4 linked regions of the Homo sapiens genome follow. The protein of the gene in region 3 purifies or fractionates together with the protein of the main gene of each other region. This does not show direct contact. Each region holds a gene or a part of one and is shown on either strand. Other genes may lie near its edges.

Evidence for each region. Proteins that work in one complex are often made in the same cells at the same time.
Region 1: the proteins of KCNMA1 (region 3) and TNPO1 purify together in Homo sapiens (affinity purification with mass spectrometry, with the first as the bait; one large-scale study listed by BioGRID). This does not show direct contact.
Region 2: the proteins of KCNMA1 (region 3) and FUNDC2 purify together in Homo sapiens (affinity purification with mass spectrometry, with the first as the bait; one large-scale study listed by BioGRID). This does not show direct contact.
Region 4: the proteins of KCNMA1 (region 3) and TIMM21 purify together in Homo sapiens (affinity purification with mass spectrometry, with the first as the bait; one large-scale study listed by BioGRID). This does not show direct contact.

What each region holds. Positions count from the first base shown.
Region 1 is NC_000005.10:72,885,888-72,889,660, reverse strand, and holds part of TNPO1 (transportin-1), read right to left. Parts: intron 2,592-3,773; coding exon 2,439-2,591; intron 1,584-2,438; coding exon 1,358-1,583; intron 1-1,357. UniProt on the Homo sapiens protein: Functions in nuclear protein import as nuclear transport receptor. Serves as receptor for nuclear localization signals (NLS) in cargo substrates.
Region 2 is NC_000023.11:155,050,571-155,054,343, reverse strand, and holds part of FUNDC2 (FUN14 domain-containing protein 2), read right to left. Parts: intron 2,675-3,773; coding exon 2,543-2,674; intron 1-2,542. UniProt on the Homo sapiens protein: Binds directly and specifically 1,2-Diacyl-sn-glycero-3-phospho-(1'-myo-inositol-3',4',5'-bisphosphate) (PIP3) leading to the recruitment of PIP3 to mitochondria and may play a role in the regulation of the platelet activation via AKT/GSK3B/cGMP signaling pathways.
Region 3 is NC_000010.11:76,888,418-76,893,580, forward strand, and holds part of KCNMA1 (Calcium-activated potassium channel subunit alpha-1), read right to left. Parts: intron 3,303-5,163; coding exon 3,108-3,302; intron 1,153-3,107; coding exon 1,034-1,152; intron 1-1,033. UniProt on the Homo sapiens protein: Potassium channel activated by both membrane depolarization or increase in cytosolic Ca(2+) that mediates export of K(+). It is also activated by the concentration of cytosolic Mg(2+).
Region 4 is NC_000018.10:74,151,250-74,155,022, reverse strand, and holds part of TIMM21 (mitochondrial import inner membrane translocase subunit Tim21 precursor), read right to left. Parts: intron 1-3,773. UniProt on the Homo sapiens protein: Participates in the translocation of transit peptide-containing proteins across the mitochondrial inner membrane.

The sequences.
Region 1 (3,773 bases), on a different chromosome or scaffold from region 3:
AATGAAAGCCCTGGTCATCAGCACTGTGAATTATTTACCGATTTCTTCCATAGCACTTGCCATAAATGATAATTATGTTGCTGCTTTGTATTTCCTACTAACCTGTAAGTCTCAAGATGGCAGGGACTTTATGTAAACTCAGCATTTAGTATATGCTTAACAATTAATAGCTAAAAAAAAAAACCGAGGTACTGAATGAATAAATTATAGGATCTCAAACATAATCTATATCCTCCCTCCCTTAATATCTTCCAGATATGACTGCTTCAGATGGATTAAGGTCAAACTCAAATTTACTATCCCTGCCAGGCGCGGTGGCTCACGCCTGCAATCCCAGCACTTTGGGAGGCCAAGATGGGTGGATCACTTGAGGTCAGGAGTTCAAGACCAGCCTGGCCAACATGACAAAACCCCATCTCTACTAAAAATACAAAAATTAGCTGGGCATGGTGTCGCACACCTGTAGTCCCAGCTACTCAGGAGGCAGAGGCAGGAGAATTGCTTGAACCCGAGAGGCGGAGGTTACAGTAAGCCAAGATCACACCACTGCACTCCAGCCTGGGCGACAGAGCAAGACTCCATCTAAAAAAAATAAAATAAAATTTTCCTTTTTTTTGTTCAACAGTTATTTTTTCCTACTATCAAGGTCAATGGTAAAAGCAAACCTACTCGAAAAATTAAGAACTATAAACATAAGCAGAAGGCCCTTTTAAAATATAAAGGTATATTGCAGGAAACTGGAATATTTGTAGTAATAAAAGCAACTGCTGGCTTGATATAAAGAGACAGCCACCAAACCAACCAATAGAATGGCTACTAGAGCAGAACTACTAAGCACTCAAAGACCTTTAACTGGTAAGTGACAGACCACAGGTCCCTGTGGGACTTTCTGAGTTATGGTGGTTGACCTGTAGTCTAAGGATGTCAATCTGCTCAAACGTTGTTATTCCTTCAAGAGTAGGAGTCCTGCCATCACTAGTTCAGATGTCTGAGGGAATTAGGGTGTAAGATAGTTCTGTTATAATAACCACTGAGTGGGAAAAATGAGCCAAAGAAGAAACAGCTAAGATCGATGTTGTCACATTTAGATCTACAAAATCATCAGGTAAAACCCACATGACAAAATTCTCCTGGCCAAACAAAATGTATAAAATACGCTAATATGCAAACCCAAAAGCTACAGATCCTGCAAAACACTTCACCAAGAAGAAAAAAGAAAACTAAGCTTTCTGATATAACTGGAAAATTTTCAATTACGAAACACTTCATTATAGGTTTAACACCAACACTCCATCAGAAGGTTGAAAATTAAGTTTTTCACTGCCACAAAGAACACTGTGTTATGAATCTGTCCCACCTGCAGGCAGCTTCTTGTACTCTCTTGTTGCTGTCCAGGATGCGCTTTAGCAATTCTGTCATTAATGGCTTCAGGTACGTGTCTGGCGGCTGGCTGACCACCCAGTGTGCATAGCGGCTAAGAGTCCAGCATGTTATGGAACGCACAAGAGCCTTTTTATCAGAGAGGCACTGAATAAGGTGAGGAATAAGCTCAGGCAAGTATGGAATCATGCCCTGCATGCAACCTAGAAAAAAAATAAATCTTTCAAAATGCTAAAATTTAGTTAACATTATTTTGGTTGATTATGAAAATAAAACACGTATCTATGAAAAAATTCAGAATATTTCTACTGCTATACACATACTACAATAACCTATACCAAAATTATTTTTAAAACCCTGAAGTTAGAGCTACCTGCTCCCAAGCATCTTACAGTGTTTCAATTTCTTCTAATAGATGTTTACTGCCAGGACAAAATCAATAATAACCCTTCATAGAGAATGAAGAGAGTCTTGCCTTATTGTGTTTCCTATACTTACCTAAAGAATCAAGGATTTTTTTTTAAAGCAATGGGGATGCTTCAGACATCAGAGCCTTTCATTCTGTTCCCTTAATTTTTTTGTTTTTATTTTTTATTGAGATGGAGTCTTGCTCTGTCACCCAGGCTGGAGTGCAATCGCACGAATTCAGCTCACTGCAACTACCACTTCCCAGGTCCAAGCAATTCTCCTGCCTCAGCCTTCCAAGTAGCTGGGACTACAGGCACATGCCACCACGCCCAGCTAATTTTTGTATTTTTAGCAGACGTGGTTTCGCCATGTTAACCAGGCTGGTCTTGAAACCATCTCAGGTAATCCACCCGCCTAAGCCTCCCAAAGTGCTGAGATTATAGGCGTGAGCCACCATGCCTGGCCTCTGTTACCTTTATTATAACAAAAACATTTTGCAAAATATCTAGCTGGGGTTAGAAGACGGCCTATGGCTGTTTAATACTAGTTATCTGGTTCAAAATAGAAATTCCTTAAAGTAGCCTAGCCTTATTAGTACCTAATAGTAGTAAGAAGCCAACTTACATAATTCAAACTGGACTTAGGCTTACCTTCAGCAATTGCTCCTAAAACCAAAATGCCTGATTCTTTAACAACCCATTCATGATGAAAAAGTAATTCTTTCAAAAGGGGCAAAATATGTGGCAGCAGTTCATCACGATACACATTTGCAAGAACATCCAGGGCAGCAGCAGAACATTTTCCTAAGGAAATATTTAATTCAAAAATATTACATTAACCTCTTATTACTTATATATTATTTATTGTATATGTAACATTTTATTCGTATCTCTAATACGGAGTTTTAAAATAAGAATTCAATTGAATAGGAGGTAGTTTGTCACGTGAAAACATTTTGTGGTTTTTTTTTTTTTTTTTTTTTTTGAGATGGAGTCTTGTTCTGTCGCTCAGGCTGGAGTGCAGTGGTGCGATCTTGGCTCACTGCAACCTCTGCCTCCCAGGTTCAAGTGATTCTCCCGCTTTAGCCCCCTGAGTAGCTGGGATTACAGGTGTGTGCCAGTACGCACAGCTGATTTTTAGGAGAGACGGGGTTTCACCATGTTGGCCAGGATGGTCTCAAACTCCTGACCTCGTGATCCACCCTCCTCAGCCTCCCAAAGTGCTGGGATTACAGGTGTGAGCCACCATGCCCAGCCAAAAACATTTTCTATTAAGATGAATATTTTTTATGACAAGAACTTACTTGGCAAATTAATTGTGAACACATTGTATTCTGTACATAACTGTCATACTAGAATTCTGTCTATACAGTAAAACAAATACTGTGCCACTCAATTCAGTGCTTCTAACATAACCATTCAATATGATACACTCATATTACAATCATGATTACAATCACTGTTACAATCACGCAAAAAACATACATTATTAACTCTACTTAACATTTCCAGCAGTATATCATCTAGAATTAAACAGACAATTACTTAGCTGGACTTTAGACACAAAAACTGGAAGAAAAGTCACTGGCACATGAAACATAACGCATGCTAGAAAATACTCTTTACAAAGAATTAACTATGGGACTATAAATCAACCCAGATTTTATTATAATAATAATTTAGACAAGAGCAACAAAATCAAAAAGAACAACAAAAATATCATTTAACTGTTATGGGTAGGAACGTGTTCCTGAAGTTCATGTATTAGAAACCTAATCCCTAAAGCAACGAAGATGGGAGGTGGGGCCTATCAAGAGATGATTAGGTCTTAAGGGTTCTGCCCTCATAAATGGGTTAATGTCGTTACTGTAGGAGTGGGTTAGTTATCAAGAGAGTTGGCTTATTATAAGCGTGAATTGAGCTCTTAAGTGTGTCCTTCTGTCATCAGATGATGTTGCAAGGAGGTTCTCACCAGATGCAGCCCCT
Region 2 (3,773 bases), on a different chromosome or scaffold from region 3:
GATGCACATCAGGAGGTAGAGACAATGGCTCTTTGAATCAAGGACAAAGAAGGAGAGTTCATGGGGACAGTTATGGCGAAAGAGTAAAGCTGCACTAAATAAACTGGTTACAGAGGCAATTCTGTTTCCAATTTTGCTCCTTCCATCCTCTTTGGCATCTACCCTCCAATAGAGGCTTCTCATTTCCTGAAGTCTCTCCCCTAAATCTCTCCATCCATGCATTCCCCCCTGAAACCTGCTCCCAGGTAGATGCTATAAATTCTCATTCTCACACTTCACCACATCTAAGATGATTAACAGGTGACGTTCTTATTTCCTTAAGTTCCCAAAGCTTCCCACCTCCCCTCTACCCTCCTGGAATAGCTCCCGGTCATCTGAGACTCAGTGCATACATTCAGACACTCTTTATGGCTCCTTAGTCTGTGCTCTACCAATCTCCTGACCACTCCCCACCCTTCCAATTTCAGAGACAATTTTGATAAGTGGCTCAGACTTCCTCTTTCTCCTAAGTGTGATCACCACCTTAGAAAGTGTTCATATGAACAAGACATCCAACATCCTGGCCTGATCATTTCTTGAACTCAAGTACGGTGACTTCCATCCCCAAACCACCTAAGCTACTCACACCCTGACATTCCCCTAACATTTTTCACACTACCAACCCCATCCTCCTAGGACCACTGTCTTCTAACCCTCCAGTAAGCCCTTACTCCAACGATGCCTATGTCTTCCTGCCTCATTTCCACTCCTCCTCCATCTCTCCTGGACCTCTACATTTCCTTAAATGAAGCACTTTTGTCATCTGCCATTGGGGTGAAGAAAAAAAATCATACAACTTCCTGAGAAAATTGGTTTCGTTTATTATTTTTACTACTCTTTCTTCAACTTGCTAATTTGGCTTTCAACTCCACCACCCCACCAAACTGTTCTCACTGAAGTCATCTTGTTGGTAAATACTGAACTAAATCTTCATCCTGTTTCTCAAATCAGACCACCGGCTCTATGAGTAGGAAAACCAGCCACTACATCCCCAGGGCCTGTGACAGTGAACTCAATTCCAAATTATCTGGTTACTTTATAACAAACTCCCTCTGTGAGTCAACAGTTGGTTCTAATCAAATATTAACTTTATGCTTTTTATTATATACACTTCCAGTATTATTTTTAAAGTTTTCAGCAAGGTGCCATGGCTCACACCTGTAATGCCAGCACTTTGGGAGGCCGAGGTGGGAATACTGCTTGAGCCCAGAAGTTTGAGACCAGCCAGGACAACACAGGGAGACCCTGTCTCTCCAAAAAATTTAAAACTTCACCGGGTGTGGTGGTACACACCTATAGACCCAGCTACTCAGAAGGCTGAGGTCAGAGGATCGCTTGGTTGAGGCAACAGTGAGCCATGACTGTGCCACTGCACTCCAGCCTGGGCAACAGAGTGAGACCTCTCTTACAAAATTTTTTTTTACTCACTGTGGTGAGTCACTGTGCCCAGCCATGCATTATTTTTATAAACATTTGAATAATAAAGTTTTCATGAAATAAAAAATGTAACTTTCCTAACTTTGAGGAGAGACAGAAGGAAGAAAGGAAAGAGAAACTATCTGGGCTCTGGGCTCCTGTAGATACCCATCTCTGCCACCTTCCCACTCTGGGTAAAGGCACCAGCTTTGACCAGCCACTTGCCAATCACCAGCACGAAGAGCCACTCACAACATGAGAAGCCTGAGGCGCACACAGGGTATTTCTCCTCCCCTGCACTCAATCTGTCTGTTTTCCCTGTGAGGCTAGAGTGAGCTAATGGGAGAATCTCTCATCACTCCAGGCTACAGAAAGTACCAGCTATCTTCTTGACACCCTGATCCTTGTTTATTTCTCCCCAGTTCAGTGTACTTATTTATTTGCAACATCTGACATATTTCTAAAGGTAATAAAGCAGCAGCAAAAAATATCCTTTTAAAAAGGAAGGACTTCTCCTGTCCCTGCAGTGCCAGGTCATAATCTAACTTGGCTTTAATGAACAAGATCAGGGGTTAGCAAACTACAGCCCATGGGCCAAATCCAATCTGAACCTGTTTTTAAATAAAGTTTTATTGCAACACAGCCACATCCACTTATTTAACATATCATCTATGGCTATTTTGATGATATACAGTGGAGTTGAATACTTGTGACATTTCCACTAGTTATATGCAGAACAAGCAGAGTATGAATGTTTCAGAGATATGCGTGTATAGCGACAAAATGGGACTCAAAATAATTATACTGGCCATATATCCTTCCCACCTACTATGCTGCCCCACATTCCTACAAGAACTGGTTAAAGGGATAATCACTCCACAAATGTGCACAGACAAAGGTCACCAAACAATTATCCAGCTTTTAAAAATGTTCTGAAGTGATGATAATCCAAGTTAGTTTTGTCTCATTACTCTAAGTTCTTTGTAATGCTTAAGCCCTGTCCATCACTGAGATATGGTACAATAGGGTTAAGCCCTGTTTTTGTCTGCACTGTTCACACACTACACGTGAACAATGCAAGTCTCACCTCCTCAGCTTTGCTCCTGACCTCAGTAGGTATCTGATTGCTCTTACGGATCTTCAGCTGCTCTTTGGCTTTCTTCATGTCCTTCTCCACTCGTTGCCAGTCAACTTTGATGTACCCAGTATGGTTTGCAAGCTACAGTATCAACAATAATGACAACAAGAAATGAGAAACAGATTTGTTATTTCTTTTAGTCAGGATAAATCCTGAAGTAGACTCTCGAAACCCTCTGACTTTCCATTTTTGGAGACATCTGCCATTTGATTCTTTGTATCATGATGACATCTACTCAGCATCCCCCCTATATGCGAAGCCATATGCCTGGCACTAGAAATAACTACTGGCAATTCTTTTAAATTATTTATACTCTTACAACCCTTTTACAAAGAGTTACATAAGATGAAAATCAAGGTGGGGGGTCAAGATGTAGGGTGAAGAGATGGACCTTACAGCCAATACAAATGTTTCCAGAGAATGACTCTGACAATGTGCCCATGAGTGTCAGTTTCCTGACAATGTGAACAGAGCAAAGCATTCAGGCAGTTATTACTGTTGCTTAACAGGAAGAAATCTAGCATCTGGCCCCACAGAGATTTCTCATGAGCAAGTTCATATAAACGGATATTAAGAGAACCACATCCAAAGACACCTACAGCATATACCTATTTCCCTTGATAAAAACAGCAGGCACAAACACTAAAACTCAGTGTAAATCTGATTCAAGCATGTAGATTTTGATGATGGATTAATATCATCCTAGGAATGAAGAGAATGACTGTAGCCAATCAATCAATGCCCTATCAATATCACTTCTCTCTACCAAATTTTTGGCAATCTCAAAATATCTGAAACTAAAAGTCTTCACCTTGCTAGAGTCTCCTCCTGCATTGTTGCTCTTCCTCTAGGCCCTATTTTAGCTAATGGCACCACCAGTCACCCAAACAGACTAGAGAAAATACTTGTGATGTGTATCATAAACAAAACATTGATACTCAAAAAAGTGAACTTCTTATAGAGATCAGTAAGAAAGTTCACTTTAAAAATGGGTAAGGGCAATTCAGAGGAAAGTGTCCACAAAAAGGAAAAAGTTCAACTTCACAAGTAATCAAGCCATAGTACCTTTATTTATGAGTCTATAACTGGAAATACACAAAAGTCTATCAACACATGAATGGATAAACAAATTGTATCATATTTACACAATAGAATATTACTTAGTACTAAAAAGAACAAA
Region 3 (5,163 bases):
TCCTTCCAGACCAGTTAAGTTAGAGTAATCAGAATATTTTTTAAAAGCTCCCCAGGTGATTCTACTATGCAAGCAGGGATGAGAAACGCTTGTCTCTGCAGCACTGTTGCCTAGGGTATATTATGCAAACTCACTGATCTTGGTAATTCTAGGATGTACTTTTAATTTTTGCCTGCTATGAATTTATTTTAATGCATATGAGAAAAATATAATTGGCACATCTAAACTGTTATTTCTCTGCTTAAGGTGATAATATATAATTGTCTCAAAAATAAATATATAAAAGTTAAAAAGCGAGTCAATTTAAAATATGTGAAGTAAAAATATGGGATTCTGAGATATGGCAGAAGAACCACTTATCTTAGGGCGGGGTGTGGTGGCTCACACCTGTAAGCCCAGCACTTTGGGAGGCCGAGGTGGGTGGATCACTTGAGGTCAGGAGTTCGAGACCAGCCTGGCCAACAAGCCTTCTCTCTACTAAAAACACAAAAATTGGCTGGGTGTGGTGGTGTGTGCCTATAATCCCAGCTACTCAGGAGGCTAAGGCAAGAGAATCACTGGAACCCAGGAGGCAGAGGTTGCAGTGAGCCAAGATTGTGCCACTGCACTCCAGCCTGGGCAACAGAGCAACACTCCATCTCAAAAAACAAACAAACAAAAAACAAAAAAACAAAAAAACTTATCTTAAACACTAGCAATGTAAAATATCTCTATATTAGGTACCAACAGATGTTATCCTAGTAGCTAGAGTTTGGGAGAGATGTTTGTGTATTCAGACTTTTGTAATTAGGTGATGGAATTATTCTATTAATACAAAACTTGAATTCTTACCAAAATGTCTTTACATCTACTATTAGTAATTATAGAAAAATGCTTCCCATCACCTCCAAACTCAGTGTTGGATTTAATATGGGCAGAGTAATTTGCATGTTGAGGAGATGTATACAGACCTTTGCCTTTACAGTAGGGGACAGGAAAGGATATTAATATTTCTGTGATTAGGTGGGAGGGCAGAGTTGAAACCAATACTCACCTCTTTGTGCACTGACTGGGGGTGCTGAGGTGAGCATCTCTCAGCCGGTAAATTCCAAAACAAAGCATATTATATGTTTTCAGAGCTTTGCAGAACAGATCACCATAACAACCACCATCCTGGGAGACAGCAAAAGAACAGAGAGAAACATCCTTTTTATTTGCCTGAAAATCAAGGGACAGCAGGGAAACGGGTCTTTTCATCAAAGCTTGTTTTGGTGTCTCCCAAGTTGGAGGGTCCATGTGCCAAGGGACGGCAGTGGAAGAAGTCAACATGTTTAACAGACTACACCCAATATGTGTGATTTTTAGGGATCAGGTAACAATGGGGTTTTCCTCTGGTGTCTCTCCAGTTTTCCACCTGTCGCAGTGGGGTTTGAAAGCTCTAAGGAGATTATGCTTCTCCCTCACTTTAAGTCAAAGTGTAAAGCTTGATGGTCTCAGATGTATGCTCAGCTGAGGAGATGAACCCTTCTCTGCAAAATGGTGATTATGTTCAGTCCCAGCTCAGCTGTAACCGCTGTGATAGGCTCGTGTTGTCAAAACTGTCTGAGTGATAATGAAAACCACCGCAAGGAGGAGGACCCCACCAGGTCCTATGGTGACAGACTCTTTCAGGAGGTAAGGACCCTGTGAAAAGCACAATTTACAGACCTCAGAGATGGCAAGGGTGCAAGAGAATGTGTTTCCCTAGGAGCCAGGGGTCTGCAGGCTGAATAACTAGGATTCGCAGTTCTGATCAGTTCACAGCCACCTTCCCGGGGTCTGGGGCCTGATGCAGAAAGTGAAAGCAAATGCATCCACTTGGAAATGCTGGCTTCAGCGGCCAGGTGGCTTCAGGTAGATGTTACCTGTATTATATGAAGGGCACTGGGCACTGCGGGATGGCTTCACTGGGTATAAAATGACTGTCTTTGTCCTTCCAATCATTGGAATTCTCATATTGGTCTCATACCAAAGAACACTGATGGGACCAAATCTTACCATTATCTAAAGTCTTTATCCTAATCAAGTGCATCAATAAGTAAATGATAGGTATAAAGAGCCACTAGCTATGAAAATTCCCTTTCAAAAAAAGCCTAGTCTAACATAGGTCCCAGTCCATGATCAAACTAAAATATGGGGAAAGTATGCAGCACTGTTTCAGAAAAAACAGAGACAGACCCTTTCCTTGGCTCCTTTTCCACTATTTAGTCTTTCTGGGCGACACCATTGTTTGTGTAACAGGTTTATCAGTTTCTGTGACTTATGGCTGCATCTCTTAAATGCATCTGTGGGGTTGGGCTGGGAATAAGGGCAAAGACAGCACACTTCTGTCACAGTGCCTACACTAGGCAGATACATGGAATCAGAAGGGAGACGCTGGCCACTTCCGTCACAGGGAGGACATGAGGGAACGTGACTGGGTCCACTCTCAGAAATTACAAGGTCTAGGTTTTGATTTACAGGCATTAAAGGATCCACATAAGATTCGGTTTGTTTGGCCGGTGGTTCTGGATACATCTGACTACTGACTACCCTGGTGCTTTGAAAACCACCAGTGCCTGGGTCCTATTCACATATAAAAACTAAGAAACCTGCAGGCTGAGGCTGGCCACCTCCATGTGCTATTAATGTATAGTTGGGTTGAGTATCCCTAAGCTACGCTAAGAGCCTGTGGAAATATTTCCCAACCTTGGCTGCATGCTGGCATCACCTGCTGCTTCTCACCTTGTGCAGAGGATACGTGAAGAGAACACCAAGGAGGGAGAAAGCCCACTGGCTCTGAAGCCAGGATGCCTTGGTGCAAATTCCCAATAGGTCTAGTGCTCATTCTCTCTGGGCCTCAGTTGACTTAGAAGGTGTGATACTAGAACTTATATCAAAGGGTTGCTATGAAGATTAAAATGAATGACTATGCATAGAGCAAAGTGTCTGATCCAGAGTAAACTATAAATAAATATCACCTCTTACAGTTATCTACAATAGGAAGGAGAAAAGCCAGATGCCTAGCTTGTCACATCTGATACCACGTTCTTCAGGATCAAGCTTTTCCCAAACAGCAAGCTCAGGTGACCTCGGTGCTGTGGACTCACCCCTAAGTCCGCAAATGGCCCATCGAGCAGAGCTAACTGGGCCACGCGGCAGCGGTCCCTATTGGCCAGTGTCTGCGGGGTGCTGTAGCCACCTCTAAGGGCGTTTTCCTCAGCAATCAGAGCCTCCAGCTCCGGCGTGGCTCCTCCGGTCACCAGGGTCCGTATCAGGGTGAGGATATTGTCATTGAAGTACGTCTGGGGAAGGAGAGAAAGTGAGGGAAAAGTCCTTTAAGCAAACACCCTAAAGTCATGACAGCCGACATCCAAATTACAACTTTTCTTGGTATCTCCTGTTTAAAGTTCTGGCCTGTCTCTTCAAATAATTTCATGTGGGGAGTGAAAAGACAGCAGCCTCCAATTATTCCGTTATTTTCTCTCTTGCTTGGCTCTGCTACGACAGCCTGACTTAAAAAACCCAGTTCAGGGGATTTTTTAGTAAAGGGCTCAAATCTGAATAATTAGTGTTTGCCATAATTGGTTTTAGTAGGGATACAAATATTGCCTCCCCCTCCTAAAGTCTACGTGACTACTATGAGATTCTGGACACGTGTAATAAAATGCAGCCTGCCCCAGCTACTAACCCAAGCAGCATTGTCTCTGAGGCCCTGTCATCCATGTGCCAGGAAGCTTCCTCCCCACGACAACGGCAAAACCTTTCATTAATGCCACACGCTTAACGATTTACCACATGCGTTGATAACTGTCTAACTCAGAAATCTCGATCAATTAAATATGCCGGATAAATTTATGAAAAGGTGAATGTCCTGGTAAGTGTACTTTGGCTTTTGTTTTCTAAAATAACCTCAGTAGTCTGAGGCAAATATCACTTATTAAAGAAGTTTCCCTCTAAGTGTACATTTGTGTCACATCTGAAACATAACAGATCTGTCAGGAACAAAAGAATGGGAGTTTAAAAAAAATTAATAGGATGTCAAATAAAGGAGCTTTAAAAGGTATTTGTCACCAGCCTAATTTGAGAAATTCTCAGGTAAGGGTGTGCATTCCATTTTCCTATGTAAGTAGAAATCAAGCAGGCTAAAAAACTCAAATCAAAGTTTGCCTGTGGCTTTTGAGGATGCACTTTGGAAAGAGGTAAGGAAAGATGCAATTGCACCTCAGCAGCTTCTTAGAGAGTTTAGCTGGCAAGGCATAGTAGGGAACAAACCAAGTAAGGGTGAGCTCAAGTTCCCATCCCAGGTTTGCTAACTAGTTCTATGTCTTGGAGGTTGCCTAGTCATTCTGGACTTTGATTTTTCTCGTCTGTAAAATAACAGTGGTCATTAAAACCAAATTTATATTCACATAATTCCATGAGGACTTCTGAATTAAGATGATAGTTACTAGCGGGGCTGGATTCACAATCCTCATTGAAATACTTACAAAAACACCCATTGTGATACAAAATTCCAACTGCAAAAGAATTTAGGAATGTTATCCATAGCCTGCCAGACCCTAAAGGAAATTTATGCTCAGAGTTAAGATATGCCCTTAGGCACAGAAGCAGAAAAAGGATACTTAAAGTAGGATATGTTTCTGGAGAGGTTATGGGATCCAGGGATCCAGAGCTGGGCTGAGGGGTTTAATGCTGACTTCACCTCTCAGAAGCTGTGTGACCTTGGAAAGTTATTTAACATTTTTGTGCCTCCGTTTCATGATCTGTAAAATGTAATAATAGAAGGCTGTGGGGCTCTATGACCTACCCATGAAGCACTTAGAAACATGCTTGGTGCACAGGAAGCACTGATAAACATTTTGGCCTCATATCAGAGACATGAGGCCTTTGCCAAGTAGAGGAACAGTCAGCTCCATTCTCAACTTTCCTTTGAATTTTTAATCTTCTTTGTTTTCTTGGAGGCGTGGGGAACTCAGGGCTTTAAAAACCAAGCAAGGGATTTTAAACTCGATGTGGTAGAAAATGGGAGGTCAGCCAAGCATGGTGCACACCTGTAATCCCAGAACTTTGGTAGGCCAAGGTGGGAGGATCATTTGAGGTCAGGAGTGAGGTCAGGAGTTGGGACCAGGCTGGCCAACGTGGTGAATCCTAGTCTCTACTAAA
Region 4 (3,773 bases), on a different chromosome or scaffold from region 3:
GTTCAGGGGCAGCTGTTTTGAAAACTCCCTGTGTGTCAGCGCCTCAGCAGAATTCTCAGAGCAGGGCTTGGGAATCTATGTTTTAATTTAGGATGAAGAAATCCTTTTAACAAGTGATCCAGTCCACAACTGCTGTAGGTTAGGCAACACTCCCAGATTAGGAAGAGTGCTGGCTTTTGTCAACCAAATGGGTAAGGGACTGAATGGACCAAAATGGGTGTCAACTCTTAACAGTTAGTAACTAGCTCGAATGCCAGTCCCACCCCACACTGACTGGTGCATAAAAACAGAACTGTGTTCAGAGTAGGAATATGGTTGGCCAGAAAGATTTATGAATTAAACTTAGAAAATGAAGAAAATGCACAGACCAGACATTTGTTTTCCCACACTAATAAAATATGTGCATATGGGTTAAACAGACACTCTGAGAGCTAGAGAAACTCAATCAAGACAGTGTCAGGGGGCCAGGCGCGGTGGCTCATGCCTGTAATCCCAGCACTTTGGGAGGCCGAGGCAGGCGGATCACGAGGTCAGGAGATCGAGACCATCCTGGCTAACACGGTGAAACGCCGTCTCTACAAAAAATACAAAAAATTACCCGGGCGCAGTGGCGGGCGCCTGTAGTCCCAGCTACTCGAGAGGCTGAGGCAGGAGAATGGCGTGAACCCGGGAGGCGGAGCTTGCAGTGAGCCAAGATAGCGCCACTGCACTACGGCCTGGGCGAAAGAGCGAGACTCCGTCCAAAAAAAAAAAGACAGTGTCAGGGGACAGAATATATACATATGTATAGCTATAAATAAATGTATTTGTATTATACAGAAATACATATACAAGTACGCTTATTTGTCCCTATTACCCCAATCACCCTAGATTCCCGATTGTCCCTCCCAACATTTCATTCCTGCCTTGCTTAGCGTATCAGGTGAGTCTTTCTATTTTTTCACTTACCAACAGCTACTGTATATCTACCATGTGTATCTTCATATATATGCAAAGAGCTATAACATTACAGTTACACTACCTTAACATTACAATTACGACTATGCTTTTCACTGATGCTGAGAAAGTGAGTCACCTCCTGGCATTATGTTTATAGACTAATTTATTCACCACATTAGCCATTCAGACTTCTGAAATATAAATCTTTAAAAAATTTTTAAGAAAAAAACTTTTGGAAGAAAATTTTAATAGATGTTGCTGTTATTTTCTCTTCTGTATAAAAAGCTTCTATTATGTTTATAAACAACATTGTTTAAAAGAAGTATTTAGCTAATACAACGCTTGTTTAAAAGTAGTCTTTAGCGTATCACAATCCTTCAAGTTTTCAGCAAGGTTCCCAACTTAGAAGACATTATTCAAATAATAAAAAGACCTCATCTGCCAAAATCTGTGTAATTCATGGGACTGACTCAAACAATTGTCACAAATCCAATTTCCCTTCCAAGGTTCAGGAGTTGGGGCCTACAATGACGACATCTCATTCCACTCTCAGTGTCACAAAATACATTTCAATAAATATTACCTGCCAGTTATGTATCAACTCCCAGGTTGAGAATACAATAACAACTAACTAGTTCTAGTAAGTATCCTTATTTGTCCTTGTTACCCAAACCGGGTCATTGGCCCCAACACCCTGGACTTCTGACTGTCCCTTCCAACAATTCATTCCTACCTTGCTTAGGGTATCTGACAGGTCTTTTCCATTTATTTGATAAACAACAGCTCCTGTATATCTGTTATATATAAAGCCCTGTGCTAAATATTCTCCATATTCTACACACTTGAAAAATTTCTGTTTGTTACTTTATAGCTGTCTCCAATGGAAGCTGCTCACTGTCTAACTTTCTGAACCCTATCAGACCTAATACTTGTATGCAAAAAACCCTCATGCCATTTATTTGCTTCCACAATTCTCTACCCCTCCTATAGTGGGTGCTGTGGTATGGGGCTCCCAGCTGCAGGGAGCACTGGTAGCGGACAGTTGTCAGCTGAGCTCCTCTCTGGGCATTCCATCATAAGAGAGCTTCCTCACTTAGGTCACGGCACTTCCCTGGACCAGCCCATATTCAATGCCTGGTTGATGCAGAAGCATAAGACTCAGCCCCCATATTAGGTAGGACAGTGACTGGCCAGCTCAGCTCCAGAAGTCCCCAGAGCAGCAGCTGAGGCCCCAACTGCAAATGCACTTCGGCCTCTCCCTCTGCCCAGTCCTGCTTCCCTCATCCCTCAAGACGTATTCTGAGAGCACTCCCTGATAAACCTTACGCAAATCCCACTTCCCTGGGAAGCCAACCTACAACGGGTGCTACCAGGAGTGGTAAGCAGCTCTCAATTTGGATTTTGGAGCTGGCTTGCCGGCCACTGGCTGGCAATGAGGACCCTGTCCCTGGTGGTAGGGGGGTACTGACAGCACCTGTCATAGAGCTGTAGTGCAGCTGATGCAGCTCTCACCAATGGGGACCTGGGATGGAATGCTGGCGGAAGGGAATGTACTGGCTGATGTGTTATTCTGGGAGTTTAGGAGGAATCAGCAATTTTAAGGACTTATATCAGACGGCTGTGGCTGGGGCCATGGAGAGGGATGGTGAGATGAAGTGTGTAACTAATCACCAGTGAAGGTGAGTGCCAAGGGCAGGAGCCTCCTCCCCGGCAGAACAAGACTCAAATTGCACCCAGAGGATAGAAAATGCGTGGGTGAGGTCTGGGGCGGAAGGGATTCAGGGAGTTTGGCATTTCAAGCCCATGAGACCTCCCACACCAAGGTCAGGGTCCTGATTTGGGAGGAAAGGCAACCTAAAGCTGGGTAGGGGGCCCTTGAGGTCAATGTTGTAAAAAATCTTGAATCCCAATTCTCCTGACCCCTCTAGCCCTGAAGCAGCAGCTCAGTGTCTGGTAAAGGTTGGCACTTCCTCCACCTTGGAAACTGGGCGAGGGGTGGGTGGGGGTTTCTGCCTAGCAAGATACGTGCTGCTCTCAGGAGGGCTCTCCACCTCCCCTCCTGGCCAAGTTACAACACGACTGGGCATGAGAAGGGTGAGAAGAACAATACTCGGAAGGAGCTGGAGGTCCCCCCGGGGGGGGGGGGAACATAGACACCACTGCTTCTTAAGGGTGGTGTGTCAAGGGCACAGAACACAAAACCAGCTGAGAGTTGATCAGCATGGGGCACGCTCCTGTGATGAATTTAGCAACCAGGCAAGCACCCTGGGAACTGATATGCAGCTGGCTAGGTCTGCTCCTGGAAACTTCGAGACAGTGATGGTCCACATTAAGTAAAAGTGACAGAACAGCCATGGCAAACTGGACGAAAGGCTCAACAGCCTCCAAGAATGGGGATGCTACCATAGATATAAGATATAAAGCCCGAAAACCCACCAGCTGACTATGTTCTTAGGAGGGACAGGAGGACACTGTGTACCAAAGCCACAAGGAAGCCACAGTTACATCTTTATAGAGCAGGATGCCCTGACAGAAATGGAGATGAAAGAATTATGAAGCAGAGACCAGGCTGGGGTGTTAAACAGAAGCCAAGGTGGGTGCAACCATCATAACTAATGGCAAGGCTGGAGTGGCAGTCGGGAGTGTCTGACCTACAGAAAGCAACAGAGTTGATGACTAGAACACAGTGTTTCCAAAGGGAAGACACAAGGGCAGCGGACAAGGCTACTTCTGAATTACACAGTCATGAGAAATTAACTACAGATGATTCCTGAGGCTGAAGGCAGCTGCTCTAATGCAAAGTCCTGAACATTGCCCCAGTTTCTGGACCTGAA